2 separate regions of the Homo sapiens genome follow, and region 1 is linked to region 2. The links come from fine-mapping of genetic effects on gene expression. A gene starts in region 2. The other region holds a variant in brackets. All regions are shown on one strand. Distances are from middle to middle. Region 1 overlaps MS4A14 (membrane spanning 4-domains A14). Region 2 holds the start of MS4A1 (membrane spanning 4-domains A1).

What was found.
Region 1: its variant is fine-mapped to the expression of MS4A1 in whole blood (TOPMed, PIP above 0.99).

What each region holds. Positions count from the first base shown.
Region 1 is chr11:60,399,597-60,415,665 of GRCh38, forward strand. MS4A14 (membrane spanning 4-domains A14) reads left to right here. Exons shown (of 5, transcript NM_032597.5): 3 at 808-858; 4 at 3,316-3,465; 5 at 15,841-16,069. Among named protein-coding and RNA genes, the nearest start is that of MS4A14, 11 kb to the left of the region's middle. The variant G/A (reference allele first, on the strand shown) is at 11,798.
Region 2 is chr11:60,446,481-60,463,535 of GRCh38, forward strand. It overlaps MS4A1 (membrane spanning 4-domains A1), which reads left to right and starts at 9,367. Exons shown (of 8, transcript NM_152866.3): 1 at 9,367-9,465; 2 at 14,592-14,680; 3 at 15,705-16,053; 4 at 16,522-16,641. The coding sequence starts at 15,895. It overlaps MS4A5 (membrane spanning 4-domains A5), which reads left to right. Exons shown (of 5, transcript NM_023945.3): 5 at 1,169-1,312. The coding sequence ends at 1,279. RefSeq lists an enhancer at 11,446-11,555.

The sequences.
Region 1 (16,069 bases), 47 kb before region 2:
CAATTATAACAGTAAACCTAGGAGAATCCAATGAGAGGAGGCTACAAACACACAGATGAGGAAAGAGTTTCCCGAACTAGCTTGGTGGCAATGGAGCTAGAGATGGAGAGCCTTGAGAGTGACTCGGAGGTAGAAGTGACAGGACTTGGCAATCCAATGTGGGGAGTGAAGCGGAGGGAGGTATCAAAGGTAACTTTCTGATCTCTGCAAGTCAGCTGCAGATCCTTGGACTCTAAGACCCAGATGTCCCCAAGGTCCAAGGCCAGTTCCCACAGAGAAGGTTCCCATCCCCAGAACATTAAAAAAGTAAGGGACTCCACATGGAGTGACAGAGTTCTCATTTTCCTGAGGTGGTACTAGGCTCTACGATCATGGGAAATGAGGGACTCTGATAACTACACTAGATATCAGTCCCCATATCAGCCTTTAGAGGGGTCTTCCTTGAGAAAGTCTCCCTTCACCTGCTCAGAACAGGCACAGCTCCTCCTCTTCTCTTCAAGGCCCAGAGCTCAGGAATCTCTTTTTGGAGCCCCAGCCGGATCAAACATCTGGTCCTCTGGATCTTAGAGGAGCCTGCCTGTCCCAGTTGGCCCTGGCAGAGAGCGCTTGTTCAGTGCTGAGCAAATCCAGCACAAAGTTTCTTCCTACCCTACCTACGCCTACCTTCCCTACTCCCTGATGCTCAGGTGGAAAAACGGGATGGTCTTGGAGATTCACAAACAGATATTTTGCAAATCCAAGGGAAATTATACTGCAAGGTGGTCAAACACATCACCTGTTAACTTTTGTCTCTTGTCTTCTTAACAGTTTATTCTTACAGGATACCTCACAGTAACCGATAAGAAATCAAAACTTCTGGTAAGCCACTTAAACTACATAAAATTTAAAATCTTCTATTTGTTTTATATCATCTTTATGTATGAAGCCTTTAGTAATAAAGTTACCTTTCAGGAAAATCTGTATGCATCAAAGTTGCAGTTCAGATCATTCCTATTTGCCAGTGCCACTGTTTGCCTGACAGACATTCTTACACTTGTTCCCATTTCCCTGGTCAAGTAAACTAAAAGAGTTGTTTATTGGAAACCATTCTGCATCCCTGTAATTCATTGTTTGTAATTAGGGGTAATTCCCTGCCCTGCACCCCCCAGGACCCAGAAATATTGGACAACATCTGAAGACATTTTTGGTCATTACAACTGGTGTTATTGGCAACAAGTGAGTAGAGGCCAGGGACATTTCTAAGCATCTAAAATGCACAAGGCAGCCTCCCCCCAACACAAAAATTATCCAACAAAAAATGTTTATAGTACCAAGGTTGAGAAACCTTGCTCTAACCAAAACCAATCCTAAGCTCTCACTAATTCTTCCTCCCAATCCTAGCCCTATCTCCAATACCAACCGAGGCTTTTCTTTAGATCCTGCCCAAGGTCTGGAAGAAAGAGTTTGGGCATCAATGCTGGATTGTTCTAGGATTGAACCAAGGCTATCACTCACTTCTGTGTTAACCTGAAGGGAAAAGTGCCTACTTCTAAGGGTTATTTTGAGAGTTTAATGAGACATTACTGATAAAAGGCAAGATGATGCTTAAATGTTCATACTCCTTTCTAACCACTCTGATCTTGTTTAAGGTCCTGGGGATGTGGGCCTCTCTGAAAGTCAGTTGAACTCTGTTCTTATGGTCCTCTGCCAGTTTCCTCTAGGGATAGTTACAAGGCATAGAGACATTCTGAGGGGAGGGCAGATAAATGTTTCCATCCCTGCTTATGGAAATACATGCAGACAATGCAGATGAAGCCCCAAATGCTGTTCTCCCTGTATTGACTTCCTTCCAGAGCTGAGAAATAAACTATGGGTAAGGAAAACCTACTCCTGACTCACTGAGAGCTATGCAGATGGAGGTGTGCAGGAATGATGGAGGCAGGATGCTGAACCAGGCATCAGAAGACCTGGCTTTTCATCACAGCCCTTCCACAAACCGTGAAAGTGATTGCTCACAGTCACTTACTTCCTTAATTCCATTTATCTGTAAAATGTGGATAACAACAAGTGTCCTTCCTACAGCACAAAAGTATAATGAGAATCAGAAGAGACTAGGCTGGGCATGTTCTTTGTAAAGCCCAATACACATGAGGGATTGATTATCTAGAGATCTTAGTCTATAAAATGTCCTATGGGAGCCAAAATAGAGCCTTGAGAAAACAAGGGGACTAAAGACCAAGAGAGAGATGGCCTATCTATATGTTCCTGTGCATTTTCTGCCAAAGTGCCTATTTGCAATAAAAACCTGGGATTGAGGTAAACATTAAGTCACAAGTACACTTCTGAGGTTTGCCACACCAAGCCACAAACTTCCAGAAAGGACTGGCTGTGTAAAGGCATCATTGTATTTTCCACCACGGTAGTCATAACACAATCAATAAAGGTACAGCAAATACCTGATGAATGGAAATGTGAAGCTTTTCTTTGTTTTTCCTTTAAAAGAGTGATATCAGTCCTGGGAGTGGGTAAGAAGGAAGAAATCAGATGACCCCCTTCCTGTAAAGGAACTCGGATATACCTACCCCACCCACCCACACCCCCCTCCAAAAAAATAAGAATGAATAAAGGGAATTGGGTGGGGCAGTGTGAAATATTTTTATTGCAACAATGAGTTCAAGAAAAAACACCTTTAAACTCCAGTCCAAATAGGTTAACATCTTTAAATGTTAACGATTCTGTTGATTATTGCTTGAATTCTCCCAGGGAATGACTGTAAACCACATGATTGCAGGATGTCACCTCTTTTGTTCATTTTTGTTTCTCCAGGGCCTAATGCAGTACTCACATGTATCTGGTGCACATTAAATATTTATGAAATAAATGAATAAATGGATACTACCCTAAAAGTTAGGTGACACATTCACATTTTTAAAGGCAGAAATTGAGATTCCAGGAGATTAGGTTACTTGCCTAAGGTCCTAGTGAAACTTGGACTTGAAATGAGGTTTCATTTCCAAGCAAAGATATTTGCTAACACATTGTACTGCTTCCAGATTATGAAAGATGGTGGTGATAAAATGAGATAAAATGGGATAAAATGAACATTTTCTTTAGCATTAGCCATAGAGCATCCTTAGCCCATTCTAAAACTTGGTTTGTCTTCTGACTTTAATGAGTTAGAATTTAGTTTATTAAGCCTTCCAATCATACTGACCTGATGGAACAACTCTTCCCTGAGAAGTATCTGGAAAGATAAAAGCACTAAAAATTTCTTACAAGATATTTTTGCTTTGGTTTCGATCTTATTTATTTTATCATTTTTAAACTATCTTTCAGGGTCAAGGTGTCACGGGCATGAATGTTATCAGCTCCTTGGTTGCGATAACTGGGATTACTTTCACCATTCTCAGCTACAGACATCAAGACAAGTACTGCCAGATGCCATCCTTTGAAGAAATATGTGTTTTCAGTAGAACTCTTTTCATTGTAAGTGGTCTTATTTTGCATGAAGAATCCCTAAAATCTTCTCTGAACTGTGTCCATGATGTAATGATTCACTGATTTTTATTTTATTAAATGAAGTTGTGTCAGCATTTGAACTGACGGTTGAGAAGGGTACCATGGGGTTACTGTTACAATGGTTAAGGAGCGATATTTTCTGGACTTGAATCCTGTTCACACAAGCTTGTCACCTTGGCCTAATATTGTATTCTCTCTAAGCTTCGGTTTTCCTCAAGTGGAAAATGAACATAATGAGAATGCTTACCTCATGGGTTGTTGTGAGGATTGCTTAAATTAAAACAGTACCTTGCACAGTTAAATAGTCAGTAGGTTTAGCTAATACAATTATTATGGCCATAGATTGAATTAAATTTTACTGTTTCAGCATTAATGAACAAAATGATCTAAAAGTTTGCTCAATAACACTGAGATCAAAATACAGTGGGGGAAGGTATTTAGAAGTCATTTAAAAAAATAAGGATTTTTATAAGCTTAAGACATACATTATTTCACATAATTGTGGCAATTTTATTCATTAAAGCAGATGAGAGATCTTTTACCAGGAAATGTAGTTGTCTGTGCAATTTAAAGTATTTATCTAACAAGTAATCAGTGACATTATTTTTAAGCATGTCAGTGACTCCAATAGGCCTTTCTCTCTAGTTCCCTAAGCAAGTCCTGGGGTTTTATTTTATTCCTACCAGCTATATCTTGAAGCATGGGTTCTATAATTTGAAGAATATTTGAATCCGTTAGAAGGGAAATAAAGTGGAATCACAGAAAATGGTCTTCCTCAGTAAATAAGAAATGAGAAGTTAGTTCCTGAATACAAGAGGTAATTTAATCCTCACAATCACTCAGTGAAATGGTCCCAGGGACTCTCTCATGTGTTCTGAGATAAATTCTAAAATTAGACTCATGATAGATTACTAAAGAAAGCCAGAAAACAACATAAGCGATAAAACCCTGTCCTAACTGGGCCAAGAACATGATACAACATTATAATTCTTGGCCATTGCTGAATGGACAGGAGGCAACTACTGTTTGTTATGTTCGTATATACGAGGAAGAACTTGTATATACCCGAAAGGGTTAAATCTCCAGATATATGAAATTCCGTATTTCCTGCTGTCCATGGATGGGTATTGCAAGATTAGTTACCTGCATACAGAACCATGAACAATCTCTTCCTAGTTCTCACTTACATAACTTAACAATTTCTTGCTGTAACCCAAACATCATAAGCTAAAAGAGCCAGAACAGTGGGCTTTAGATGTCTCTTGGGCTGACCCCTGTCCTAAAGACCAATCTATTGTCTATACTGTGGCTAGAGTAATCATTTAAAAATGTAAATCTGAGCCATTACTTAATGGCTTCCTGTAAAACGTATGATGATTAAGACCCAAATCTTAACAGCCTTACCAAACCCTGTAACACCTATCCTACCTATCTTTCCAACATTATTCCAGGACTTCATCCTTCTCACTCCTCCACACTCCAGCCACTTCCTATAATCCCTTAATGTGTCAAGTATCCACGGCCCCAAGATGATCAGAGGATCAGCTTCTTCCGGCTTTGAACCGTCACCAGGCCAGTTATACAATTAACTCATCCTCATACTTAAATCTCAACTGAAATACCACTTCTTTAAGGAAGTTCTTCCTGACCTCACCTCTATGCTCATATCTGCATAGATCCCCCATTAGAGTAGCGCATAGCTCCCAATCCTTCTTCACAGCATTTATCACAATTTAGTTAGGTAAATAATTATCTAATTACTTGTTATTGTCTGCCTCCCTTACCATGATGTAAGTTCTACAAAATCCAAGACCAGGTATATCTTGTTCAATGGAGAAAGTCAGTAAATTGCATACAATAGGGTCTTCATACATTTCAGTTTTACCAACAAATATTGAATATTTAAGATTTTGGGTGTATTGCAGGGAAACCAAGATTCAGAAACACACAGTTATTTGTTCAAGGTTAAGTGGGACTTTGGACCCACTTTTTTTTTTTTTTGAGATGGAGTTTTGCTCTTGTTGCCCAGGTTTGGAGTGCAATGGCACAATCTCGGCTCACCACAACCTCCGCCTCCTAGGTTCAAGCAATTCTCCTGCCTCAGCCTCCCGAGTAGCTGGGATTACAGGCATGCACCACCAGGCCCAGCTAATTTTGTATTTTTAGTAGAGACGGGGTTTCTCCATGTTGGTCAGGCTGGTCGCAAACTCCCAACCTCAGTTAATCCTCCTGCCTTGGCCTCCCAAAGTGCTGGGATTACAGGCGTGAGCCACCGCGCCCGGCCAACCTTGGACTCACTGTAACTCAGGTCTTTCTGTCTTCATAGTTTAAACTTTTGAGACACCATAAGGTACCATGTTACTTCTCAATATAAACATTACCTTAAAGCAAAATGGGCAAAATGGCAATCTGTGGGCTATATCCAGCCTGTATATATGTTCTATCTGGCTCTTTAGGGAAAAACAAACAAAATAGGCATTATGGTATCCATGTTCCCACATGACAGCAATTGGCTGGAATTGAGTAATGGATGCCTCCTATGAATACTATTACTCTCTACTCTTTCCCTGTTTAGTTCACAATGACTGCCCAGCTCCCATGGACATTGGAGTTTGTTATCCCTGCCTCATCAGAAAGACACAAGATGAAAATTGTGCAGTGTCTGATGGCTACAGAACCATCCAAAATATGGGTTTCCCATACTTGGTGATAGAGTGTAAGGGGTTCTCAGCTTATATATTTAAAATAACAGCTCTCATTTCAAATACCATTTATTTCTCCTCATTATTTGCAGGGAATTTTGTTAATCTTACTGATCATCAGCATAGCAGAGCTCAGCATCTCTGTGACTATTGCATCCTTTAGAAGCAAGTGCTGGACACAGTCAGATGAGGTGTGTTCTGATGTCTCTTAATATTATTAAGAGAACAGGTTCCTGTTCCTGTTGGGATACTGCACACAATGATGTCTGATTTATTAGTAGGAAAAGCAGCATGCTCAGATGCTGAAATAAAACATCTAAATTTAGGAAGGTCAGAGAGGGGCAAGCTTAAGATTGAAGCTCACCCCACCATCTGAAACAACTATGCTTTCCTTTCTTGTACTATCTGCTTTATACTCAGTCATCTCTGTTAAGACATAGCTCCTTATGTCTCTGCCAAAAATATGTAATATCAGACTTAACAGGAACCCAAATTACTGTGACATGGGGTGTATATTCTTGGATCATAAGATGTGTGACACAGTTCCACCACCACAAAAGAAATAGGAAAAAAAGCTGTTACTACTGATACTACATAGTATTTATAATAATTGTTATAGATTATATTTACTGAATTCTGACTATGTCAGTCACTGTTATAATCACTGAGCACCAACTTAATCTTAACAAAACTATTATAACATCTTTATTTTACATATGAAGGAAGTAAGGCACAAAGAGGCTAAACTAACCTCTCCAGTACCACATAACATCAGGATTCTGACCCCTGTGATATGTCTCCAGAGCCTGCTCACTAAGTCCCAAATACCAGTACAGGCCTTGTGATTTATGGAGATTTCATTTCTCTCTCTAGCTCTCTCTTTTTTTTACATCAACTTTATAGAAGTATCATTTATAAACAACAAAATGTACCTATGTTTAGCTACCATCACAATCAAGGTATAGTGCATTCCTAGCATCCCGGAAGGTTCACTGGAACCCCTTTGTAGTCAATGTTCTCATCACCTAGATTGGTTTTGACTTTCCAAAATTTCATATTCATGGAATCATAAGTAAGTACTCTCTGTATATGGCTTATATGGCTTCTTCCACACAGAAATATGTTTTTGAGAGTCATCCATGCTGTTGCCTCTATCAAGAATTCATTCCCTTTATGTATGGGTACACCACAATTTGTTTATCAATTTACCTTTTTTTTTTTTTTTTTTTTTTTTTTGAGTCGAGACCTCACTCTATGACCCAGGCTGGAATGCAGTGGCACTGTCTCGGCTCACTGCAGCCTCAATCTCCTGGACTCAAGCAACCTTTCCACCTCAGCCTCCCAAATAGCTGGGACTGCAAGCATGCGCCACCACCCCCAGCTAAATTTTTTTTGTATTTTTTTTGTAGAAATAGGGTTTTGCCACGTTGCCCAGGCTGCTCTCAAACTCCTTGGCTCAAGTGATACACCCACCATGACCTTCCAAAGTTCTGGGATTACAGGTGTGCGCCACTGCGCCCAGTCCATTTACCTTTTGATGGGTATTTAGATTGTTTAAAGTTCTGAACTATTATCATAAGTTACTAAGAATATTTGAGTTCATATATTTGTGTGGACATATTTTCACTTCTCCTGGAGTGTTGCATCTAGGATTTGATTGCGAGATCGTATGGTAACCAGATGTTTAACTTTATAAGAAAATACCAAACAGTTTGTCAAAGTGGCTGTATTGCTTTTCATTCTCATCAACAATGTGTGAGAGGGACAGTTGCTCCATATCATTAACACTTGAAACTGTCAGTTTATTAATAATTTAGCTATTTTAGTGGGTATGTAGTGGCACCTCATTGTAGTTTTAATTTACATTTCCCTAATGACTAATGATGATGACACTCTTGCTATATGTTTATTATCCATTTGTGTATCTTCTTTTGAGATGTCTGTTCAAATATTTAGCTGAATTTTATTGGATTATCTTCTTATTGGCCTTATAGCAGCCTAATTAATTCTTAATACAAATCCTTTACAAATATTTTTTCACACTGTGACTTGCCTTTTCATTTTCTTAATAGCTTCTTTGAAAAAAACAAATTTGATGAAGTTCCATTTATCATTTTTGCTTTTATGGTTATGGTTTTTGTGTTCTGTTTAACAGGTTTTCCCTACCCCCAAATCATGAAGGTTTTCTTCTATCTTTTCCTACAGAAGTTTTATAATTTTAGCTTTTGTGTTTAGATGTATGGTCTATCTTAACTTTCATGTACAGTTGTAGGGTAAGGTTAGAAGTTAATGCACATCCCCCCTCATGGAGATATCCAGTTGTTAACGCCATTTGTTGAAAATGCAATGCTTTCCTCCATCACCTTGGTATTTTTGTTGAAAATCAATTTACTTATTATTTATTTGTAGGTCTCTTTTGGATACTTTTTCCCTCTGGCCACTACGTCTATCCTTCCACGTATTCTACACTCTCTTCATTTCTGTGTCTTTAGAGTAATTCTTTTGCATTGTGGTGAAATATATATAACATAATAGTTATCATTTTAGTCATTTGTTCAAATCATTGAATACATTAATAATGTTGTGTAACTCTCACCACTATCTATGCCCCAAAATTTTTCATCATCCCCAACACAAACTCTGTACCACAAAACAATCACTCCCCGATTCCCCTCCTGATTGCCCCTGGTACCCTCTATCCTACTTTCTATATTATGAATTTGCCTTTTCTAGAGACCTCATATAAGTGGAATCTTACAATATTTGTCCTTCTCTAACTGGCTTATTTGAGTAAGCATAATATTTTCAAGATTAATCCATGTTGTAGCATATATCAAAATTTCATTCCTTCTATGACTAAATAAAATTCCATTTTGTGTATATACCATATTTTGCTTAGCCATTAATTTGTTGATGGACACAGATATTTCTGCCTTTTGCATATTGTGAATAATGCTGTTACGAACATTGGTGTAAAAATATCTGCTCAAGTCCCTGTTTTCAATTCTTTTGGATACATACCTAAGAGCGAAATTGCTGGCTTATATGGAGTTCTGTGTTTAATGTTTTGAGAAAATGCCAAATTGTTTTTCACCTTCGTTGCACCATCTTACATTTCCACTAGCAGTGTACAAGGATTCCAATTTCTCCACATCTCCATCAATACCAACCAACAGGGGAAAAGGGGGAGTAATTATTTTCCATTTATTTTTAATTTTCAATTTATGATTGACACATAATTGTACATATTTATGGGGTACAGTGTGATGCTTCAATGCATGTTACATTTTCTAATGATCAAATCATGGTAATTACCACATTCATCACTTTAAACATCATTTCTTTGTAGTGATGACATTCCAAATTTTCTCTTCTAGTCACCTGGAAATATACACTACGTTGTAATTTGCTATAGTCATGCTACTAAGTATAGAACTTATTCTTACTATCTATAGTAAGTAAGAACTTACTCTTCCTGTCTAGAATTTTATACCCATTGACCAATCCTTCCCGGTCCTCCCATCCTCCCTACCTTCCCTAGCCTCTGGTAACCACTATTCTAGTCTTCACTTCCATGAAGTCAACTTTTTTAGATTCCAAATGTGTGTGAGATCATGCAGTGTTTGTCTTTCTCAGCCTGGCTTATTTCACTTAATATAATGTCCTCCAGGTTAATGCATGTTGCCACAAATGACAGAATTACATTCTGTTTTATGGCTGAATAGTATTCTATTGTTTGTGTGTGTGTGTACATTATATATATGTAATATATAATGTATATTTTATATATATATATATTACATTTTCTTTATTCATTTATGTGTAGATAGGCATTTAGGTTGATTCCTTATCTTGGCTCTTGTGAATAGCACTGCAGTAAATATGGGAGTACAGATGTTTCTCCAACTGTCTTCATTTCCTTTGAATATATACCCTGTAATGGGATTTCTGGATCATATTTGTTTTTATCATGGCCATCTTTTTTCTTTCTTTCTTTCCTTCTTTCCTTCTTTCTTTCTTTCTTTTTCTTTCTTTCTTTAATTTTTATACAAAGACTATGTCACTTAGGCTACAGTGGCACAAGATCATATGTCACTTAGGCTACAGTGGCACAAGATCATAGCTCACTGCAGCCTCAAACTCCTGGGCTTAAATGATTCTCCTGTTTCAGTCTCCTGAGTACCTGGGATGAAAGGCATGTGCCACCACACCCACATAAATTTTTATTTTTATTTTTATTTTTGTAGAGACAAGGTCTTGCTATGCTGTCAGGGCTGGTCTTGAACTCCTGCCTTTAAGCCATCCTTCCACCTTGGCCTTCCAAACTGCTGGGATTAAAGGCATGAGTCACCACACCCAGCCTTATATAATGGCCATCTTAATGGGTGTGAAGTGGTATCTCATACTTTTGATTTGCTTTTACCTAATGATTTGATGTTGAGCATCCATGTATACATCTTCTTTGGAGAAATAACTGTTATAGTCTTGCCTGTTTCTTAATTGGGCTGTTTGTTTTTTGTTGTTGAATTGTAGAGTTCTTTATATATTCTGGATCTTAGTCCCTCAGTAGACATATGATTTGCAAATATTTTCTCCTATTCTGTAGGTTGTCTTTGCACTTTCTTGATGACTTTTGATGCACAAAAGTTCTTTATGAAGTATAATTAATCTATTATTTTGTTGTTTTCTGTGCCTTTCTTGTCACATCCATGAAATTATTGCCAAATTGTCATGAAGATATCTTCCAACTTTTTTCCATGAAATGTATGGTTTTAGCTCTTAGGCTTAGTGTCGGATTGATTTTGAGTTAATGTTTGTATATGGTATAAGGTAAGGGTCCAACTCTATTCTTTCACATGTGGATGCCCAGTTATTCCAGCATCATATGTTGAAAAAATTCCTTTCCCCATTGAATATTCTTGGTGTCTATGTTGAAAATTGATTTACTATATATGTGATATAAGTGAGCATTTATTTCTGAATGATTCCATTGGTCTATATATCTTCCCTTATGCCAGGTACCATATTTTTTGGGTTTTTTTTTTTGTTTGTTTTTTGTTTTTTGTTTTGATGGAGTCTTGCTCTGTCACCCAGGCTGGAGTGCAGTGGTGAGATCTCAGCTCACTGCAAACTCTGCCTCCCGGGTTCAAGCAATTCTTCTGCCTCGGCCTCCTAAGTAGCTGGGACTATAGGCGCATGCCACCATGCCAGGCTAATTTTTGTATTTTTAGTAGAGACGAGGTTTCACCACATTGGCCAGGCTCATCTCGAGCTCCTGACCTCAGGTGATCCACCCGCCTCGGCCTCCCAAAGTGCTAGGATTACAGGCATGAGCCACTGTGCCCGGCCCTGTATTGTTTTAATTAGTGTAGCTTTACAGTACGTTTCAAAGTTGGAAAGTATAATCACTCAAACTGTATTATTCTTTTTCATTATTGTTTTGGCTATTCAGGGCCTCTTAAAATTCAATATGAACTTGAGGATCCATTTTTCCATTTATAAGAAAAAGACTGTTGGAATTTTGATAGAAATTGTATTGAATCTGTATATTGCTTTGAGCAGCACTGACATCTTAACAATTTTAAATCTTCTTATAC[G/A]TGAACACAAGATGTCTTTTCATTTATTTAGGTCTCCAATTACATTCAGCAATGATTTATATTTTTTAGCATAGAGGTCTTTCATCCCATTGGTTAGATTTATTCTAAAGTATGTAATTATTTTAGGTGGCATTATAAATGAAATTGCTTTTTAAATGTTATTTTCATATTGTTTATTGCTGTTATACAGAAACAACAATGATTTTTTGTGGGTTGCTCTTGTATCTTGAACCTTGTTGCAATCCTGTATTAGGTCTAGTAGCTTTCCTGTGGATTTGGGAGGATTTTCTATATAGGAAGATCATGTCATCTGGAAATACAGATGGCCTTAATCTCCTCTTTTCTAATTTGGATGAATTTTATTTCTTTTTATTTTCTAATAGCTCTAGCTAGAACTTTTAGTACAATATTTAATAGCAGCAGTGAAAGAAAGCATTCTTATATAGTTCCTGATCTTAGGGGGAAAGCTTTTAATCTTTCACCACTGAGTATGATATTAGCTGTGGGTGTTTTATAAATAAACTTTACATATTGAGGAATTTTCCATCTCTTCCTAGTTTTATGAGAGGTTTTCTCATGAAAGGCATTTCATCAAATGCCTTTTCTACTCCAAGTGAGATGACTGTGTGGGGGTTTTCCAACATTATATTAATGTAATGTATTACATTTATTGATTTTCTTATTGTACCATCCTTGTATTTTGCTTATCAATTTCACTTCATCATATGAATAATCCTTTTCTAATATTTTGTTGGCAATTTTTGTATCTACACTTATAAAGGATATTAATCTGTAATTTTCTTTTCTTGCAGCATAATTATCTGTTTTTGGTATCAAGGTAATGGTGGCCTCATAGAATGAGTTAGGCAATTTTCCCTTCTCTTCAAGTTTTCAGAAGAGTTTGAGAATAATTGTTTTTTTTTTTTCTTTAAATTTTGGTAGAATTCACTGGTGAAGCCATCTGATCCAGAAGTTTCCTTTGTTAGGAACTTTTAGATTACGAATCTTTTTACTTGTTATGGATCTGTAAAGATTTTCTATTTCTTCTTGAATCATTTTAGGTAATTTGTGTGTTGCAAGGAATTTGCCCATTTCTTATACAGTATCTGATTTCTTGGCATATAAGTTTTTATAGTATTCTTTTACAATACTTTATACTTTTACTCTCTATAAGGTCAGTAATAATGTCTTACTTTTATGTCTTGTTTTAATTGTTTTATTGTCTTTTTGCTTTTCAGTATAGGTAAAGGTTTATCAATTTTGTTGATCTTTTAAAAGAATCAACATTTGGGTTCATTGATTTTCTCTATTGTTTTTCAATTCTCTATGGAGATTTCTCTTCTGCCCCACTAAAATTATGCTAGAGTAATTCTTGAAATCAGATAGTATAAATCTTCCAACTTTGTTATTTTTCAAAATTGTTTTGGCTGTTCTAGGTCATATGAATTTCCACATAAGTTTTAGAATTCGTTTATTGATTGCTACAAAAATCTTGCTGGGATTTTGGTTGGAATTGTACTGAGCCTATAGATAATTTATAAACAATTTACTTCTTAGTAATATGTAGTCTTCTGATCCATGTCCATGAAACATGTCTGTATTTTCTTACATCTCATTTCATTTCTCTCAGCACTATTTTATTATTTACAATGTATAAGCCTTATGCATACTTTGTTAAATGTATCTGTAATTATTTCATTTTTTCTTGATATTGTACATGGTATTTTTAATTTTATTTTTTAAATGTTCATTCCCACATATAGAAATGCAATTTATTTTTATATACTGGTCTACTATGACCTTTCTAAACTAACTTATTAGTTCCCATAGCTTTTTTTTAATAGAGTTTCTAGAATTTTCTTAGTAGATAACCATTTTAAGTATTAATAAAGACATTTTTACTCCCAAACTTTATGCCTCATTTTTCTTGCCCTATTACACTGTGTAGTCTCCAATACAATGTTTAAAATAAGTGATGAAAATAGCAATCTTTCCTTGTTCTTGATCTTAGGGTGAAAATGTTCAATATTTTACCCTTAAATATGATGTTTTTTGTAGGTTTTTTACAGAGTAAATTTACCCTGTTGCGCAGATTTTTTAAAATCATGAATGGGTATTGGCTTTTGTCATTTTTCATCTCATGCTTTCATCTTTATCGTATTATCTGTATATTACACAACTAGAGGAGAGTACAAACCCTGTTTTAAGCCCTTTAGAAACAATACTAAAATAAGTTACACTAAATAACTCTTCAATTGAATTTAGTGAATACAGATCTTTAATCCACTAATGGCACAGTAATGTGCAAAGTACAACAGGGGATTCAAAAATAATAAAATATGTACCTTGATCTCAAGAAAAGGAAAGGGAAAGTGAACTCTACATTTACGGAGAAATTTCTCTGTGCCAGTTTCTGTGCTTGAAAGTATTATTTCATTTGGTCTTTAGTCTTAGCCACCCTGAAGTAGGAAGTAGGTGACGTTATTAATACAAGAAGCATAGATCAGAGAGGAAAGCACAGGACCTCAGATTCAACTACAATTTTTAAATCCTTCCCAAGTAAACAGCTCTACGATACTGGTCTGGTTATTTAACATCTCTGAACCTCAATTCCCTCAATTCTAAAAGAAGGATAATAACTTCATAGGGATGTCATACCAATTTTTGTGATGACTTTGGAACATTGTCTAGCATCTGGTAATCACTGAGTTCTCATTAATGGATGAGGAAATTTAAAATCATAGCACTTAAGAGCTTTAATAAACAGAGAAACTATAATTATTTCTTCCAAACCTCTTTTTAAGTGGAAGAATAAATTAAAATTCACATGAAACAAAGTTTGAGGATTCTTAGAAATATAGAAATCTCTTCCAAAGTACCATTTATACTCACATAAATAGTCCTTCAATAGGGATAAAATATAGGTGTGAAAAACTAATTAGAAGAATGGGAAATGCAATGTATTATTTCAGAGAATGTGTAGATTCTCAATCTAGGCCTGCTATTAGCAAACGAGGTAAGCATAATTAATTCATTTAATCACTGAGTTCTGATCCACTTCATCAAATAGAACAAGTAGTCTATTCTGACTATGAATTATCTCAGAAAGGTGTAATTCATGGAGTCAGAATAAAAAGCAGCAGGTTGTGCTGCAGTAACAACCTCCTAAAAATTATAATAATAAAATGAGAACTAATGGGAAGCATTGCAGGTTGTATCAGATGTGGTCACTTAGCTGTTTAAAAAACTCCAATTGCTTCCTCTTATTTGTAAAGGAAAGTCCAAATTTCCTAGCCTAGCATACCATCTAATAATATCAGTAATATCTAACTGCTTACCATCTGCCATCACACCATGCTATATCACAACCTTGTGTTTTTGTACCCGCTATTCCACTGCTGCTTCTACCTGGATTCTGACTCCTGTCTTATTTCATCTTACCGTCTATGCCTGAGTAATTCCTACTCAGCTGTTAAGATATAGATTAAATATTGCCTCTTCTGTAAAGCATTTCCAGGTTGTCTCAGAATTAGGTCATCTTCTATGTTCCCATAAAGCACTAAGTACCTATTTATGTAATTGCATTTGCTGAATTGTATTACTATTATCTATTTATATGTTGATGTACAGATAGTTGTGAGCACCTTAAGGGAAAATCCCACATCTAATTGTCTTTGATTCCCAGCATTTAGTTCATCTGGGTGATCAATAAACTATTATAGATTAAGCATGAATATATGAATATTGACTAGATGATATAAAATGTCTCAGAAGCTTTATAATATTAAGTATGGGAGGAATTTTTGAGGCAATCTTAATCAAATTCCTCTGTTCAATATTTGAAAGACTAAAAGGTGATGACTTCTAAAATAATACCAATAAGTTAATGGTAAAGGCAGGACTGGCATTCGTTTTCTGCCTTCTCATTTAGATGTTATTTCCTATCTACTGTCTTAAGTCAGAAATGAAAAGTAACTTGGAAAACAAAAAAAAAATCAGACATGATTCTGTCATATTAATTACCCTCATCCTTGCTTTTATAGGTTCTGTTTTTCTTGCCTTCGGATGTTACTCAAAATAGTGAACAACCTGCCCCAGAAGAAAATGATCAATTACAATTTGTGCTTCAAGAAGAGTTTTCCAGTGATGATTCAACAACAAATGCACAATCTGTTATCTTTGGAGGCTATGCTTTCTTCAAGTTAACACTCTCTAGGAGTCCTTTAGTCTCCCAACCAGGTAATAAAGGTAGAGAATTTGTGCCAGATGAAC
Region 2 (17,055 bases):
GTAATCCCAGCACTTTGGGAGGCCAAGGTGGGCAGATCACCTGAAGTCAGGAGTTCAGCGCTGCCAACATGGCGAAACCCCGTCTCTACTAAAAACACAAAAACTAGCCGGGTTTGGTGGTGGGCACCTGTAATCCCAGCTACTCGGGAGGCTGAGGCAGGAGAATCGCTTGAACCTGGGAGTTGGAGGTTGCAGTGAGCCGAGATCCTGCCATTGTACTCCAGCCTGGCTGATAAGAGTGAAACTCCGTCTCAAAAAAAAAAAAAAGACAAAAAAGAAACCAAAAAAACGGTGAACTACTAGCGTATGCTTCTTATGTCTCTTTCGCTTTCTCTTTTACTAAGCCAATAGTTTTCTTTTTTCCCTCTTTTTCTTTTCTATTTTTAGTTCTTTTTCCTGTTTCTTCACCTTCTTTCTTTCCCCTTCATTAGACCACCTTTTATATATGCATTTCTTTGCATTTTATGCATTTATAAAATGGACTATTTCCTACATATATAAATCAAAAATGTATTTTTATATGCCTTTCTCTAAAAAGATAATATGCTATGCTATGCTATGCTATGCTATCCCATGCTATGCTATGCTATGCTATCCTATGCTATGCTAGCTATGCTATGCTATGTTAGCTATCCTATGCTATCCTATGCTATGCTATGCTATGCTATGCTATCCTATGCTATCCTATGTTATGCTATGCTATGCTATCCTATGCTATGCTATCCTATGCTATGCTATGCTATCCTATGCTATGCTATGCTATCCTATACTATGCTATGCTATCCTATGGTATCCTATGCTATGCTATGCTATGCTATCCTATGCTGTGCTATGCTATGCTATGCTATGCTATGCTATGCTATGCTATGCTATGCTATGCTATGCTATGCAATGCAGTGCTATGCTATCCTATGCTGTGCTGTACTATGCTATGCTATCCTAGGCTATGCTATGCTATGCTATCCTATTCTATGCTATGCTATCCTATGCTTAAATAGATGCATACTCTGAAAATCCTTCACTGATTTGATTCCTAAGCATCAGATACACTTGAGATATTTGGGGAAGCTTTTATTATCTGGGCATCACTATGTCATTATAATCAGGAAAACCGTTACTGTGCCAACATCATGACTCTTCATTTTTTTTTCTTCTTCTTCTATTACAGGGAATTTTGATTACATTGATGACTTTCAGCATTATTGAATTATTCATTTCTCTGCCTTTCTCAATTTTGGGGTGCCACTCAGAGGATTGTGATTGTGAACAATGTTGTTGACTAGCACTGTGAGAATAAAGATGTGTTAAAATATTATGTAGCAATGACTTCTGCTTGTAAGGGAAAGCCAAAGGACACATAGAATCTTAAGGCTGGGAACTCTTTGAAGCAAAGGGGAGTGGCTCAAGTGAAGGGGTTCTGGGGACATTTTGACTGATAAAGCACATTCTGCCTCTTGGCAATGCCATCTGCACCTCTCCCCAAATCAAATGGTCACCTTGGTGTTGTCACCTCTGTTAGTCATGCATTATTTCAACTAAAGGACAGCAATGTGGTGTTGCAAAGATAGGAACCAAAGCCCAAGGCCTGGGGTGACCCAGTCATCTAACTTCTCTGGTTGATGACATCTCCTGTTGATTTCACTAAGAGACTCCACCCAGTGGCTCCTACTCCAGTGGTGTGTGGAAAGATGAGCTGGTTGGTGGAATGGTTTGGCCCATAAATTCTACATTAATGCTGCAAGATCATCAATGTTAAAGAGCTGATCAACTAGAATACTAACAATAGTAAAAATAATGAAGGCAAATATTGGTGGAACCACTACTATATTCCAGGCATCATTCTAAGTATTATATAGGTGTTACTCATTTAATCTCACAAAAGTCCTAGGAGGTGAATTGTATTATTATACCCATTTTACAGAAAAGGAAACTGAAGCACAGAGGGGGTAAGTAATTTGCTCAAGGTCATAAAGTTTGCAATGGCAGAGCCATAGTATCAACAGGCAGCCGGTTCCAGAATCCAAGGTCTTAATTCCAATGCCAAGCAAAGTTTGGAAGGAACTACTTTCCTCTGGATTCTCTTAGCAGCTTTTGCATTCAATCTGTTATGATATCTCGTGTTCTGTAGCCTATGGAGTATACTACTGTAAACTTGTGAAAAGAGAAATAAGGTCTTAGTATTATTACAAAAATAGTTTTGAACTTATAGGGCACCTACAAAGGTCTCAAGGACCCCAGGAAATCCGAGACCACACTTTGAGAACCACTACCTTATATGGTATTGCCTCTCACTGGCTGAATACCTCCTAAGTATTAGAGGTCTCACCTGTATCATCTCACTTGTCCTGACAGCCCTCAGGGTAGATATGTCTTTTGTCATAGTCATAAAAATTGAAGCTCAAAGTGGTTAGCTTTTCTGAGAGCACAAAAGGAGCATGATTTAGAAAGAGGATTTGAGTCAAGTTCCCTAACTTCAAATCCCATTATCCTATGTTGTTTATGGTATAGAAAAAAAAAACTCAGCATACTCAAAAAATGAAGTAACAGGCTTTCATTTCTACTATTTGCTGGCAGCAGCTTAGGTTATAGGTGCATTTGTGAAGGTGACGGATACAACATGGCAGGAAAAATAAGTAAGTTTTTTACTTCAGTGAAGTTAGGTTATGATGAAAAATACTTGGCAACTGAATGATGTACAGATGTGTGAGGCTTGAGATATATTTGAGGGTGCAAAGTCTTGGGCTTTTAAGTCAACTAGGTTTAAATGTTGTCTTGAAGTCAAAAAATAGTAGATGCAAGTTGTGGAGAAAAGGGAATGCTTACACACTTCTGGGGGGAATGTAAATTAGTTCTGCCACTGTAAAAAAAGCAGTTTGGCAATTTCTCAAAGAACTCAAAGCAAAATTACTATTCAACCCAGCAATCCCATTATTGGGTACATACCCAAAGGAACATAAATCGTTCTACCATAAACACATATGCACGTATATGTTCATTGCAGCACTATTTGCAATAGCAAAAACGTGGAATCAACCTAAATGCCCATCAACAGCAGACTAGATAAAGAAAATGTGGTACATATACACCATGGAATACTACATAGCCATAGAAAAGAATGAGATAATGTCCTTTGCAGCAACATAGATGAAGCTGGAGGCCAGTATTCTAAGCAAACTAACACAGCAACTGAAAAGAAAATACTGCATGTGTTCTCACTTATAAGTGGGAGCTAAACATTGAGTACATATGGACACAAAGAAGGGAACAACAGGCACTGGGGCCTACTTGAGGGTGGAGGATGGGAGGAGGGTGAGGATCAAAAAACTACTATTGGGTACTATGCTTATTACCTGGGTGACAAAGTAACCTGTATATCAAACCCCCGTGACATGCCACTTACCTATATAACACATCTGCACATGTACCCTGAACCTAAAATAAAATTTAAAAAACAAAGAAGAAATGTTAAAATTATTAGAAATAAAGATAGAAGACTTCTTTACAAAGTCAAGGTAGTAAAGAATTTCTTAAACAGATCCCAGAACATGAATAGTACCAGCAAGAACTGATACAACCCATTTAGTCGTTATTAAGAATGTTACATAAGTGTGACGAGAGCAGCTACAAATCAAAGCCTTTTAGCAACACAAATAACCAACAAAAATAATGGGATATAGAATATATAAAATCCTCCTATACATTAATAGAAAAATACAACTTGATGAAAACTTAGTCCAAAGCCATGCACAGCCATTTCACAGGAGACAGAAACAAAGGTTAATATATGAAAAGCACTCAATTTCTTAAGCAATTGTGGAATGAAAGGAACTCTCCTACCACAATGGTATGAGTGTAAATGAAGACAACCACTTTAAAAACTATTCCCTAGTAAAGGTAAAGATACACATACTTTATAACCCAACAATTCCACTGCTAGTTAATATACGCAAGAGAAATCCTTGTACATGTGCAACATATGACACGTACGAATGTTTCCAGAGCAGGATTGCCTGCAATACCTCAAATGTCCATGGACAGAGAACAGATCAATTGTACCATGTTCCCTACTGGAGGACCACATATTGGTAAAAATAAATTACTTGAAGCAAATCAACAAAGATGAATTATACACATTTAATGTTGAGTAAAGAAAGCAAGTCACAAAAGAACATCTTATTAATTCTACCTAAATAATGATTAGAAAACACAAAAACTGCTCTCTCCCTCTCCCTCTCCCTCTCCCCGCAGTCTCCCTCTCATGCTGAGCCGAAGCTGGACTGTACTGCTGCCATCTCGGCTTACTGCAACCTCCCTGCCTGATTCTCCTGACTCAGCCTGCCGAGTGCCTGCGATTGCAGGCTCGCGCCGCCACGCCTGACTGGTTTTGGTGGAGACGGGGTTTCGCTGTGTTGGCCAGGCCGGTCTCCAGCCCCTAACCGCAAGTGATCCGCCAGCCTCGGCCTCCCGAGGTGCCGGGATTGCAGACGGAATCTCGTTCACTCAGTGCTCAATGGTGCCCAGGCTGGAGTGCAGTGGCGTGATCTCGGCTCGCTACAACCTCCACCTCCCAGCCGCCTGCCTTGGCCTCCCGAAGTGCCGAGATTGCAGCCTCTGCCCGGCTGCCATCCCGTCTGGGAAGTGAGGAGCGTCTCTGCCTGGCCGCCCATCGTCTGGGATGTGAGGAGCCCCTCTGCCTGGCTGCCCAGTCTGGAAAGTGAGGAGCGTCTCCGCCCGGACGCCATCCCATCTAGGAAGTGAGGAGCACCTCTTCCCAGCCGCCATCACATCTAGGAAGTGAGGAGCGTCTCTGCCCGGCCGCCCATCGTCTGAGATGTGGGAGCGCCTCTGCCCCGCCGACCCGTCTGGGATGTGAGGAGCACCTCTGCCCGGCCGCGACCCCGTCTGGGTGGTGAGGAGCATCTCTGCCCGGCCGCCCCATCTGAGAAGTGAGGAGCCCCTCCGCCCGGCAGCCGCCCCGTCTGAGAAGTGAGGAGCCTCTCCGCCCGGCAGCCACCCCGTCTGGGAAGTGAGGAGCGTCTCCCGGCAGCCACCCCGTCCGGGAGGGAGGTGGGGGGGTCAGTCCCCCGCCAGGCCAGCCGCCCCATCCGGGAGGGAGGTGGGGGGTCAGCCCCCCGCCCGGCCAGCCGCCCCGTCCGGGAGGTGAGGGGCGCCTCTGCCCGGCCGCTCCTACTGGGAAGTGAGGAGCCCCTCTGCCCGGCCAGCCGCCCCATCCGGGAGGGAGGTGGGGGGGTCAGCCCCCCGCCAGGCCAGCCGCCCAGTCCGGGAGGGAGGTGGGGGGGTCAGCCCCCCGCCCGGCCAGCCGCCCCACCCGGGAGGTGAGGGGCGCCTCTGCCCAGCCGCCCCTACTGGGAAGTGAGGAGCCCCTCTGCCCGGCCACCACCCCGTCTGGGAGGTGTGCCCAACAGCTCATTGAGAACGGGCCAGGATGACAATGGCGGCTTTGTGGAATAGAAAGGCGGGAAAGGTGGGGAAAAGATTGAGAAATCGGATGGTTGCCGTGTCTGTGTAGAAAGAAGTAGACATGGGAGACTTTTCATTTTGTTCTGTACTAAGAAAACTTCTGCCTTGGGATCCTGTTGATCTGTGACCTTACCCCCAACGCTGTGCTCTCTGAAACATGTGCTCTGTCCACTCAGGGTTCAATGGATTAAGGGCGGTGCAAGGTGTGCTTTGTTAAACAGATGCTTGAAGGCAGCATGCTCGTTAAGAGTCATCACCACTCCCTAATCTCAAGTACCCAGGGACACAAACACTGCGGAAGGCCGCGGGGTCCTCTGCCTAGGAAAACCAGAGACCTTTGTTCACTTGTTTATCTGCTGACCTTCCCTCCACTATTGTCCTATGACCCTGCCAAATCCCCCTCTGTGAGAAACACCCAAGAATTATCAATAAAAAATAAATAAATTAAAAAAAAAAAGAAAACACAAAAACTAAGCAATATGTCCGTGTGAAATGTAAGCATATGTGGAAAGTCAAAATACAATGAAAAGGAAGAGAGTGATAAACACCAAATTCAGCATAATTGTGAGCTCTGATAAAGAGGGTGGCTTGGGGAAGGATAACCTGAGAGCTTTCAAAGGTATCAGTGACACTCTTGTATCTCTAATCATGGCTGTGGGCACATGGTTTCTTGTCTCACTGTTATAAGTACTTTTTCATACATATTATTTAATTTTTTGAGAAATATAATTGAGAAAGCAAAACAACATCTTATTTTCATTAAATTTTTTATCACATAATGATATTTTTATAGTCAACACCTGCAGAAAAATGTTACCGTTACATATCAGTAACACTTCATCTCCAATGATAGCATATTTATTGGTACATAAGAGAAAAAACTCTTTTCAATAACTATGAGGTCATAATTGCATTTTTTTCTTCAGCTATATTCCCACGTCACAAAAGCAAAGGGAGTGATCCAGTAATCTGCACATGGGAGTACATCAGACATTTTTATATCTTAAAACGAATAATAATAAATGTTTTGCCATTTAAAGCTGTGTCACTTGAACAAATTAATCTTTGCGGGCTTAAAATTTTTAGACTAGAATGCAATAATAGTAATACCTACCTAATGGGTTTACTGTGAACCTTAAATGAAACATGGAAAGTGAGTTTATCAGTGCCTGGAACTTAAAAATCACTTAGTAAATGCTAGTTTTTGAAATTTATAATTGAGATTTTCTTGCTCTAAACATCACTTATTTTACCATTTACCAGCTTTCCAACTTGGGAATGGCTTCCTCCATTTCCTGAAATTTAGTTTCCACAATTATAAAACAGAATCAATATTATATGTGTGGTAAGGCTTATATGTGGACAATTCTTGACATAAAAGGAATTATTTAACTAATATTACCTTCCTAGCTGTTCCAAATGTATAGTCCCTTAGAAGAGAAAGAAGACCCTATCAACTATAAAGTTCTTAAGTATTTCAATTTACATTTTCCTTACTATGAATTATTTATAAGTGCAACAATGGGATTTTCTGACCTGTAACCAAGTTCTATTTGCAATTAGATCTTTAGCCTCACCTCTGACGAGCCCTATGTCTCCCTTACCAATTCTTTGACACCAGAACCCTCCAACAGCAGATAATTCTGGGTGCCAGGGCCTTGCTGAGAAGTTGAGAACGTGGCATAATGTTACTTCCTAATATTGGAGAGCCTGGGGACAATCACCTGGGTGAAAGAAAAAGCCAAACAGAACCATTCCTTCTCAGCACTGCCAGGGACACAGCAATCACAAAAACTGACCCTGCCTTCAAGGGACAAGGAGACAATGGCTGATTAAGGCAAGGACACAAATAATTATGATGTAGCACACAGTTTTCATATAGAAGGCAATGATTAAAAAAATTGGAGTGCTGGGACGTGCAGAGAATAAAAAGGAAATTCACATCAGGAAAATACTAACTAAATAAAAGTTGGCATACTTTTATGTAGACTTTAAGATTGTCTTTTGGAAGCAAGGTCACTAGATAATGAAAATAGGCTTAATTCAAAGAGAAATATTTTAAATATGTTATCAACCTAATAAAATATTCTCAAACCTTGGGGGAAGAGTGATGGTGATACATCAAATAAGATGCTATTGACAAGTCCAAATTGTAGTGAGAATTTCAACACACTCAAGCACTAAAATGTTGATCATTCAAATGAGCAAAGACAAGGTAAATGTTTATGCATTCATACAAATTCAAATTCAAGTTTATTTGGGAAGAATCATACATAGAGCCACCTAAGTTATCTCATTGGCCACAAAGTAGCAAACAACCTGAGACTGACTGGGGAAATACAGGGCTCAAACAGAGAAAAGGATGCAAAAGACCAGGTTGTGCTGCCACAACTCAAGCCCCTTTGCTGCCATACATTTGCCAAGTCCTGACCCTGTTCCCATGCCAACTAAAATGAAGGCACATGCCTCTAACCACCCCACCATCCAGGACTCAAACCTCAGGTTTCACAATCATCCACAACTCAGACCCTAGGTAATTGTCCTCCCATCACCAATCACTCAAGCATTTCAGCAGATATGCATAGACCCTCAATTAGAATGTTAAATGGATGATGGATCTTCTGTTCCCACTCTCCTTCACTCTACAGCATCTCTGAGAGGTGACTGCATGACTTTACTTGAGTATTCTTGAAGAAGTAAATTCTCTATTGAAATGGTAGCCAGTTCCCCTAATGAACGGCTCCAACAATTTTTTTTTTTAGAGTGGCATCTTTTTAAATATCACACCACAATCAGCCTCCCCAGAACTACTTCTACCCAGTGGATCTAACCCTATGGTTCCAAACTATCTTAAATTTAAAAAGAGAGGCAGAAAGAGAAAGAGAGAAGAGATGAAAGAGAGAGACAGGAATGAACCTCGAATTAGGCAACAGAGCTGCCTGCCATATTTCATCCCTTTAGATTAAATAAACAAATAATTACCTAACTATAGCTCTGTGTCTCTAATAAAATGAAGCAATGAACAGGGAAATAAAAATGTAATTAAAAATCCCACATATGAACATAAAAGTTGAATATTGTAGGGGGAGAGAGAGGACATTATCTTTGGGCAAAACTTTGATTCACATCCCAAATATTTAGACTCTCCTGACACTACCAACTTCTTCCATTTCCCTACTTGATCTAGTACTGTGCTTGATGACCCTGCAGCTCCAGACTAGACTAAAAAGAGAGGGGACACAAGGGAACTTGACAGACAGAAGAAAAAGGTGGGTTCAGAGGTAAAAGTGCTATTTCAATTTATATTTCCAAATATGGAGGCTAATTCTTGCTTTGAGTGGCTGGGTACATGTACTATGGCACTAAAGTATAATTTTAGGCCATTTCTGCTAAATCTGACACAAGATATATACATGGTTCATAAGAAACTTAAGTGTGAGCCAATGAGGACAATATTTGGGGACCCCTAAGTATAGTGCTGCCAAGTGTACAGCCTCAGTGATTCTTGAATCTCTGCATGGATGCCTCCTGCCCACCTACTCAGCCCTAAAAGTGAAGCCAGAAGGTAAAAGTCAGTGCTAACGGCCCATCTTTGACCAACTTCTAGAATCTTTCTTGTCCTCAGGGACCTACCATCCACACCTGCTTATAGGGTGGGGGCTGCAGAAGTTCTTCTAATTAAGGTAGCATGAGCATGCCAGGCAGTCCCCTGGGGTCTTTTTCAAGAAGTGAAACCTGGTAAGGCAGAAACTTTTTTTGCACCTCCTTCAGCTATGGTAAGTGTTAAACCAAAGTAATTGGAGCGAAGCCCAAGGTAGCAGAAGCTACTGATTTCCTGTCACCTGATGTCTATCAGCGATTTCATCTTCAGGCCTGGACTACACCACTCACCCTCCCAGTGTGCTTGAGAAACAAACTGCACCCACTGAACTCCGCAGCTAGCATCCAAATCAGCCCTTGAGATTTGAGGCCTTGGAGACTCAGGTAAGGAATCAATTTGCTTTCTTTAAATGACTTAAAGGAGGTGATGGATAAGGTATAGAATGGTTTTGAAGACTGGAGGTTCTTGATCTTAATTCTAGAGTTTCCCTAGTCAGACTTCCTAATAGTTCTATGACTTAAGGAGGGGTGACGATATCAAGGCTTGCTGCCCACTCACTCCTCTAATCAGTCTCCCTCTCAACAATTACCCTATGCAGTCAACTGTGAATCATTCCACAAAAGTAGTAGATTGCAGCATATATATTAAATCATGGTTTCTAAACCATTGGGTTCAAACTGGAGCTCTACCACTAACAAACAATATAACCTTGGGCAAATTACTAAACCTCTAAAGCCTCAGCTTCCTCATCTATAAAATGGGGGCAATGGTACCCATTACATTAGGAAAATTGGAACTAAAATCCTGAATCCCTTAGGACTTCCCAATACCAAATGAGAAAATAATCAGTCATAGGCATAATGAAAAAAACTCCATTTGTCTTCCTGTAAATGCTTTTGTCTACATTAAATGTAAATATACCTAGAAGTATAGGTGGCTTTACAGGCTAACATTTTCTGGAGGGGATTTGTGGACACCAAGTTGAGCATGAAATCCTGCCTCAAATCTATCACATGGGAAACCAAGAGTAAGAGGGGGCGCTGCAGATGTGGGGGAGCTCTAATGAAGGAAAACAAGGATTAATTTTAATCATGCCATTACTGTTTTCTGAATCCAGTATATAAGTGATTCCCTTTCCCTGTTTCCCATAAAATGGCTTAATCTCACTGAGAATCCGGTGGAAAGAAATGTTTAATCCAGCATTGTGAGCATTTTTGTGTGTGTGTTTTGTTTGTTTGTTCATTTTTTAGTGGAGACAAGGTTTCTCCATGTTGGCCAGGCTGGTCTCGAGCTCCCGACCTCAGGGGATCCACCTGCCTCGGCTTCCCAAAGTGCTGGGATTACAGGTGTGAGCCACTGCACCTGGCCATTGTGAGCACTTGTTAAGCTTCCCTGAGGAAGTAGCTGAGTTTGATGTTCAGCTTAATGTAACTGAGCTCATAGTACATAGAAAACAGGTTCCCTATGCAAGTCTAGTAGGATACAGGATTCTCCGAAGAAAGTAGTTGATGTCTAGTAAGGAAAGCAAAGAGCTAGGAGCTCTGAAGAATTCCTTGCAATCAGGCAAGGAGAGCAGGAACGCCCTCAGGTGATGTGCATATCTAATGCAGAGTTTGATTGAAAGTAAAGAGGGAGGGAGAAGGAACACTTCAAAGTTGAGAAGATTCAGGAAAGAAGGTAGAGGACATGTATAGACCAGTGGCTCTGGTGGCGGTAGTGGGATATGAGCTTGGGAAGTCATACAGGGCTGAATTCCAAAGGCCTTGAGGGGTTAGATGAAGGGTTTCTCCAGCAGGTAATGACAGGCCAGCAAAGGAGTTCAGGCTCAGGAAGAGCATCACTCAAAACAGTGATCGGGAGCTTGATGTAGCAGCCTTGTGGACAATGGATTAGAAAAGAGAAAGACTGAAGGCAGAAAAGCATGAATGGAAATGAGAAACTCACAGGTGACTCTGGATATAGAAAAAAGACCCACATGCAAAATGTATTGCAGAGGTAGAAATGGCATGACTTGGCCACTGACTGACCAACAGCCAAGATGAAGATGGACTGAGAGATGATGGAGCTAAAGTGAAATGTGGTCCCAACTATCTAAGCCTGGGTGGCAGGAGAAACAAATAAAACAATCTGAGACACGAGGCCTGAGAAAAGACCACTGACTTCACAGCACAGTCCTCAAAGACCAGTTTCAGTCCACTGACTGGCGGAAACTAGTTGCCAAGCATTGAGAAGTGAGTGGGTGGAGAGGAGGTGGGGGAAGAGAGTGGGTAGCAAAGCTTTGAAGCAGCTGCGGTGAAGAAAAAGTGAGCCTGGGCAGTGGGCAAGGACATTGCTAGATTAAAAGAAGAGGACTTTGGGATTCAGGGACACTGAAGTACATTTTAGTCATAAAAGGAGTATTTAGCACCTTAACAAATGCAACTTATCTCATATTCTCAAAATGATACTTTGAAATGGGGAAGGTAACTATTACCTTAAACTTACAGAGAGACCACAAGAGGAGCAAGCAAGAGAGCTGGGACTAACTCTGTCTGCTACATATTGCCAGAAATTGGGAGACTGAAGGTGCAAAGAAGAAATAATTTCTTGGAAGGGCTAACAGCTTGGTTGGACTGAGATGGGCTGAAAAGCACAGAGGGAAGGGAAGTAAGAGCACTCTTCCTCGGAGATAGGTGCACAGGAGGCCAGAAGGGATAAAAATGCAAAACTATTTTGAGTGGAAGAGAATGAAGATGAGGTAACAACAGTGAGGCAGTTTTTAAACTTCTCAGTACATGATGGTACGAGTGGACTTAAAAGTCTATTCAAACCAAAACCCATAAAGGCTGTGAGATCTTATTCAGTGGATGGACATGAAAACAGGGGTGCCTTTAAAAATAAAAAAATATTTGCAGGAGTTAGTGTGAGTAATTAAATGCGGTACTGAGTGATCACCTGAGTCTCTATTTTAACATTCATGCTGATTTGGACACCAGCAAATGTAAAATCTTATTGTTATCATATTGCGGCTAATGTGGTCCATAACCCCTACTAATCTACCAACTAGTCTTTGAGCATAACTGTGCATTGGGCACTAAGTCATTGTGAACAATTTATTTTAATGATAAGGCAAAATTGCGAGAATCTCCAATCTCCGTAGGCGAGTTTTATGTATTTATGAATTCTCATGGAACGAAAGCTTTTCATTACAGTCAGCCCACAATGCCATAAATCGATTAATATATTTACCTCTCATATATGAGACAGATATATATATAATCAGATATATATATGAAAGATAGTTTCCATAAGAAATAAAAAAACAGAGAAAGCACTCATGTGTTTCTTTATAAACTACTATTTTATACAAATATTTGTTTAAGGTTTGTAGAAGTATAGTTGCCACCATGAGATACCATTTTAACAGAGAAATATCACACACACACACACACAGCCCTCATGGTCATTATTGCCATTAGTTACAACAGGCATAGCCCAAGTAGAATTGGCTTACAAAAAAGTTTATCTCGCCAATAATACAGACACAGCTTTAATCAAGCAGTTGATGAATAAAATGAAATTAAAACAATGGCAGTCCAATCATCTCCTTCAGTTCAAACAATTGATGACCTTTGCATTTTAAGTTATCTTCACTAAAGTTACCCCTCTGGGGCGGAGTGTAGTGACTCCCAGCTCATTCCATACTTGCCATAGGACCTTGGGAAAAATAACCTCTCTCAACCTCCATTTCTTCATCTGCAGAAAGTAGTCAAAATGCCTACTTACGAAGGTGTTGAGTGAGTTGGCAATACCATATACAATATCTCTAGTATATAGTAGGTGCTCAGTAAACAACTATAATTATCTGGACTCACCTATGGTACAGCAGAAAAAGCATCAACATCAGAGCCATGGTGAGTGCCTTCTAGCTTGGCTCTGTTGCTAACTGTGAGGTCTTTACTAAGGCAAATTCTATACCCAGACTGCAGCTTCCTCATTTGTGAAATGAACAGAATGGTTTCTGAGGTTTGGACTAGCTCTAGAAATCCTACCTAGTGACCAGAATCAGTCCGCAAACTCTTTAGTGGGCTATATTAAAATATCTGTTTTTGTTAGAGGTCTTGTAGAGTGGCTTGTTGTACAAAGCAGATCCCCAGGACCATGTGGCATCTGGCTATCTAGGGCAGGGGCAAAATCAAGTGAGAAACAACCAAAGTTTCTTCTCTCTTTCCTCTAGCCCATGCGCCAGACAGATAATACTTTTCAACTGATTTATAGTCATTCACATAGTGCATATATTGGAAGGAGAAAAGAGGGGTCATAAGGGAAAGGCTGAATTCCTATTTCTCACAGGAGACAAAGCAGCCTGGTACCCTGGATGCCTAATTTGAGAGATCCAAGTCTTCATTTTAAATCTTTACAGGCTGGGCATGGTGGCTCACAGCTGTTATCCTAGCACTTTGGGAGGTGGAGGGGGGCAGATTGCTTGAGTCCAGGAGTTCAAGACCAGCCTGGGCAACATGGCAAGACCCCATCTCTAAAAAAAATATAAAAATTAGCTGAGTATGGTGGTGGTTGCCCGTGGTCCCAGCTACTCCAGTGGCTGAGGCAGAAGGATCACCTGAGCCCAGGAGGTAGAGGCTGCAGTGAGCTGTGATCATGACACTGCACTGCAGCCTGGGCGACAGAGCGAGGCCCTGTCATGAAAACAAACAAACAAACAAAAAATATTTACTAATTATGTAACTTGGCACAAGTAACCTAGCTTCTCCGTGCCCTTGTTTCCTCTTCTATAAAACACAGGTGATGATTCACCCCTTGCCTGTTCTATAAGGCTCAGATGAGATGCCATGTGTCAAATTTACTTCCAGCCCTAAAGTAGGTATAAATGTGACAGTAGTCAGCTGCCTGTTTTACAGCACACCTGCAGCTACTCAGCTCTGATTGACTTCAGTAAGATATACTTCAGGCTGTGGTCTAATGGCTGGGATGTGGCACCGGCTTCAGTAAGATATGTGACCTGGATAGACAGTCTTGATTTCCAAGACATCTTACATGACTTACAAGCAATAAAGACAAGAGCAAAGATGTGTCCCCAAAAGAGGGATTTTCAGATTCCAGGAAAGACCCAGTGGAGTCCGCATAAGTGGTTAACATGAACAAGTGAATGCTAAGGAAACCCAAGATGAAGATTGAACAGAATCTTAAAATGTCTGAGCTGGAAAGGGCCGTATTAATTGCCTTCTCACTTCAGAAATGAATAAATCATGAAAACTGATAAATAGCATTTACTACACTCTCCCTTTGTCCTAGGCACAATTACATATGTTAACTTATTTATGTCTTACATCTCAGAGAGGGGTACTGTTCTAACTTTACAGAAGGATAAAATCGAAACTAATGCTCAGCAAAGTACAAAGAACAAGAATAGCAACAAAAATAACTATTTATTCCAACATGGGTTCTTTGCATACATTTATTTCTTCAATAATATTTATTAAGAAGTAACTAAATCCAAAAATTATTTTAGATCCTGAACAAGAGAGAACAAAATCTCTACTTTGATGGAACTTCCATTCTGTGGGGAAGAGACTGACAATAAGCAATTAAATAAATAAGGTAATTTCCTACAGTGATCAATGCCGTAAAGCAATTAAGATAGGATTTTGTAAAAGACAGCAAATAGGAGTACATGTTATAGATTGAGGGTTCAAGGTAGGCTCCTCTAGGAGCTGACATTTGAGCTACACCTGAACAAAAAGACACTAGCCATGCACAGACCATGAGCCCAGTTAAGTGTTATAGCAGCCCACGAGATAAGAATTATTATTATTTCAATTTTACAGTTGAACCTGAGGCCCAGAGAATTTAAAGAACTTGCCCAACATCTCAGAACAAATGGAGGAATCACTATTGAAACCTAGGCAATCTGACTCAGGAGGCCACAGTCTTATATACTGCATTAGAAAGCCTTAGAGAGCCTTTTCTTTTTCTTTGAGACCGAGTCTCACTCTGTTACCCAGGCTGGAATGCAGTGGCATGATCTCAGCTCACTGCAACCTCTGCCTCCTGGGTTCAAGCAATTCTCCTGCCTTAGCCTCCCGAGTAGCTGGGATTACAGGTGCACACCAACATGCCTGGCTAATTTTTGTATTTGTAGTAGAGATGGGGTTTTGCCACGTTAGCCAGCCCGGTCTCAAACTCCTGACCTCAGGTGATCTGCCCATCTTGGCCTCCCAAAGTGCTTGGATTACAGGCATGAGCCACCGTGCCCGACCTAGAGAGCCTTCTTGATGTGACTTGCACAAGGTGGCAGAGTTAGAGACAGAGAGAGGCCTGGAATCGACCCCTCCTGCTTCTACAGATAGTCCTTACCATACTCTGCAATGTTGCCTCTGGCCCATCATAATGCACAAAGGCAGATAAGCAAAAGGACAAGGACAAGTCCATTGAAAATACATTTTTCAATATTAAAGCAAAAGAAAAGCATCCAGGAATAAGAAACAAAGAGGACATGCAGTCATATATGCAAGGTGTCCTCTACAAAGATAAAGAATGCCCCAAACCCAGTTGTCAAGATCACTGGCAGGGACTCCTGGGCCCACATGCTCTTCCTAAACAACCCCTCCATCTCCTTTCTCAGAACTCAGCAGTAGGCCTTGCCTCAGATCCAAGGTCACTCGGAAGAGGCCATGTCTACCCTCAATGACACTCATGGAGGAAATGCTGAGAGAAGCATTCAGATGCATGACACAAGGTAAGACTGCCAAAAATCTTGTTCTTGCTCTCCTCATTTTGTTATTTGTTTTATTTTTAGGAGTTTTGAGAGCAAAATGACAACACCCAGAAATTCAGTAAATGGGACTTTCCCGGCAGAGCCAATGAAAGGCCCTATTGCTATGCAATCTGGTCCAAAACCACTCTTCAGGAGGATGTCTTCACTGGTGGGCCCCACGCAAAGCTTCTTCATGAGGGAATCTAAGACTTTGGGGGTAAGTCAGTTGCCTTCCATCCCATGTCGTAGGGATTCTCTGGCTGACAGAAGCTGATGCGGTATAGGCCACATACAGAATTCAATCCAATTTGAAGAATTGGGATCCAACCTGATGTCTTCTTTATGTCTAACACAGTGGGCCAAATCAGGGGTGCATCAGAGAAGTTATCACTTAGATCACCTCTGGGTGATCTTATGTCACCTTTTGGTTTTGGGGCTTGTATATGCAGGGGTCCCCCATCCCAGTCCATTGCCAGAATCCCAGGCATACCTGCTCCCTGGAAATGCCCCATGTGGTTGAGGAAACAGATTCGAACAAGAAAAAGACAAAATTCTTGGCACCTCCACTGCTTCCTTTAGGCATTCCTCACAGCTCCAAGTCAGGAGCCAGAGCTTCCAACCTTGTCTTTGCCTGCTAGCAGTGATGATTTCAGCTCATCCACTGCTGCCTCTGTTCTCTCCCCAGGCTGTCCAGATTATGAATGGGCTCTTCCACATTGCCCTGGGGGGTCTTCTGATGATCCCAGCAGGGATCTATGCACCCATCTGTGTGACTGTGTGGTACCCTCTCTGGGGAGGCATTATGGTGAGTAAAAGAATAGCAGCCATTTGGGAAATGGTGCAGACAAAAATGTTAAAAGGCTCCACAGGGATATGCCAGATTATTTCTGTGTTGAGGGAAATATATGAGTAGGAAATATTATTGGGTTAAAGTAATTAAGAAGACAGGTTGACCAAATTGAGTATAAATCCCATGGTTGAGAGTCAGTGGTCCTGTTTCATGTGAATTCAGAGAAAGGGGCCCTGCATGGATCTCACAGGGACTGTCCAAAGCAAGAACTCTCCAAAGTCAGTTCTGGTGGGGAGGGTGGCCCTAGACATTTAGACTAGATAGCAAGATGTTTTGGAAAGCAAGAGGCAGCAGGAACATCCACTTCCATCTACCCCTTCTTGCTTACAATTCTGTTTGGTTACTATGGTACCTGGTGAAACCTGTCCC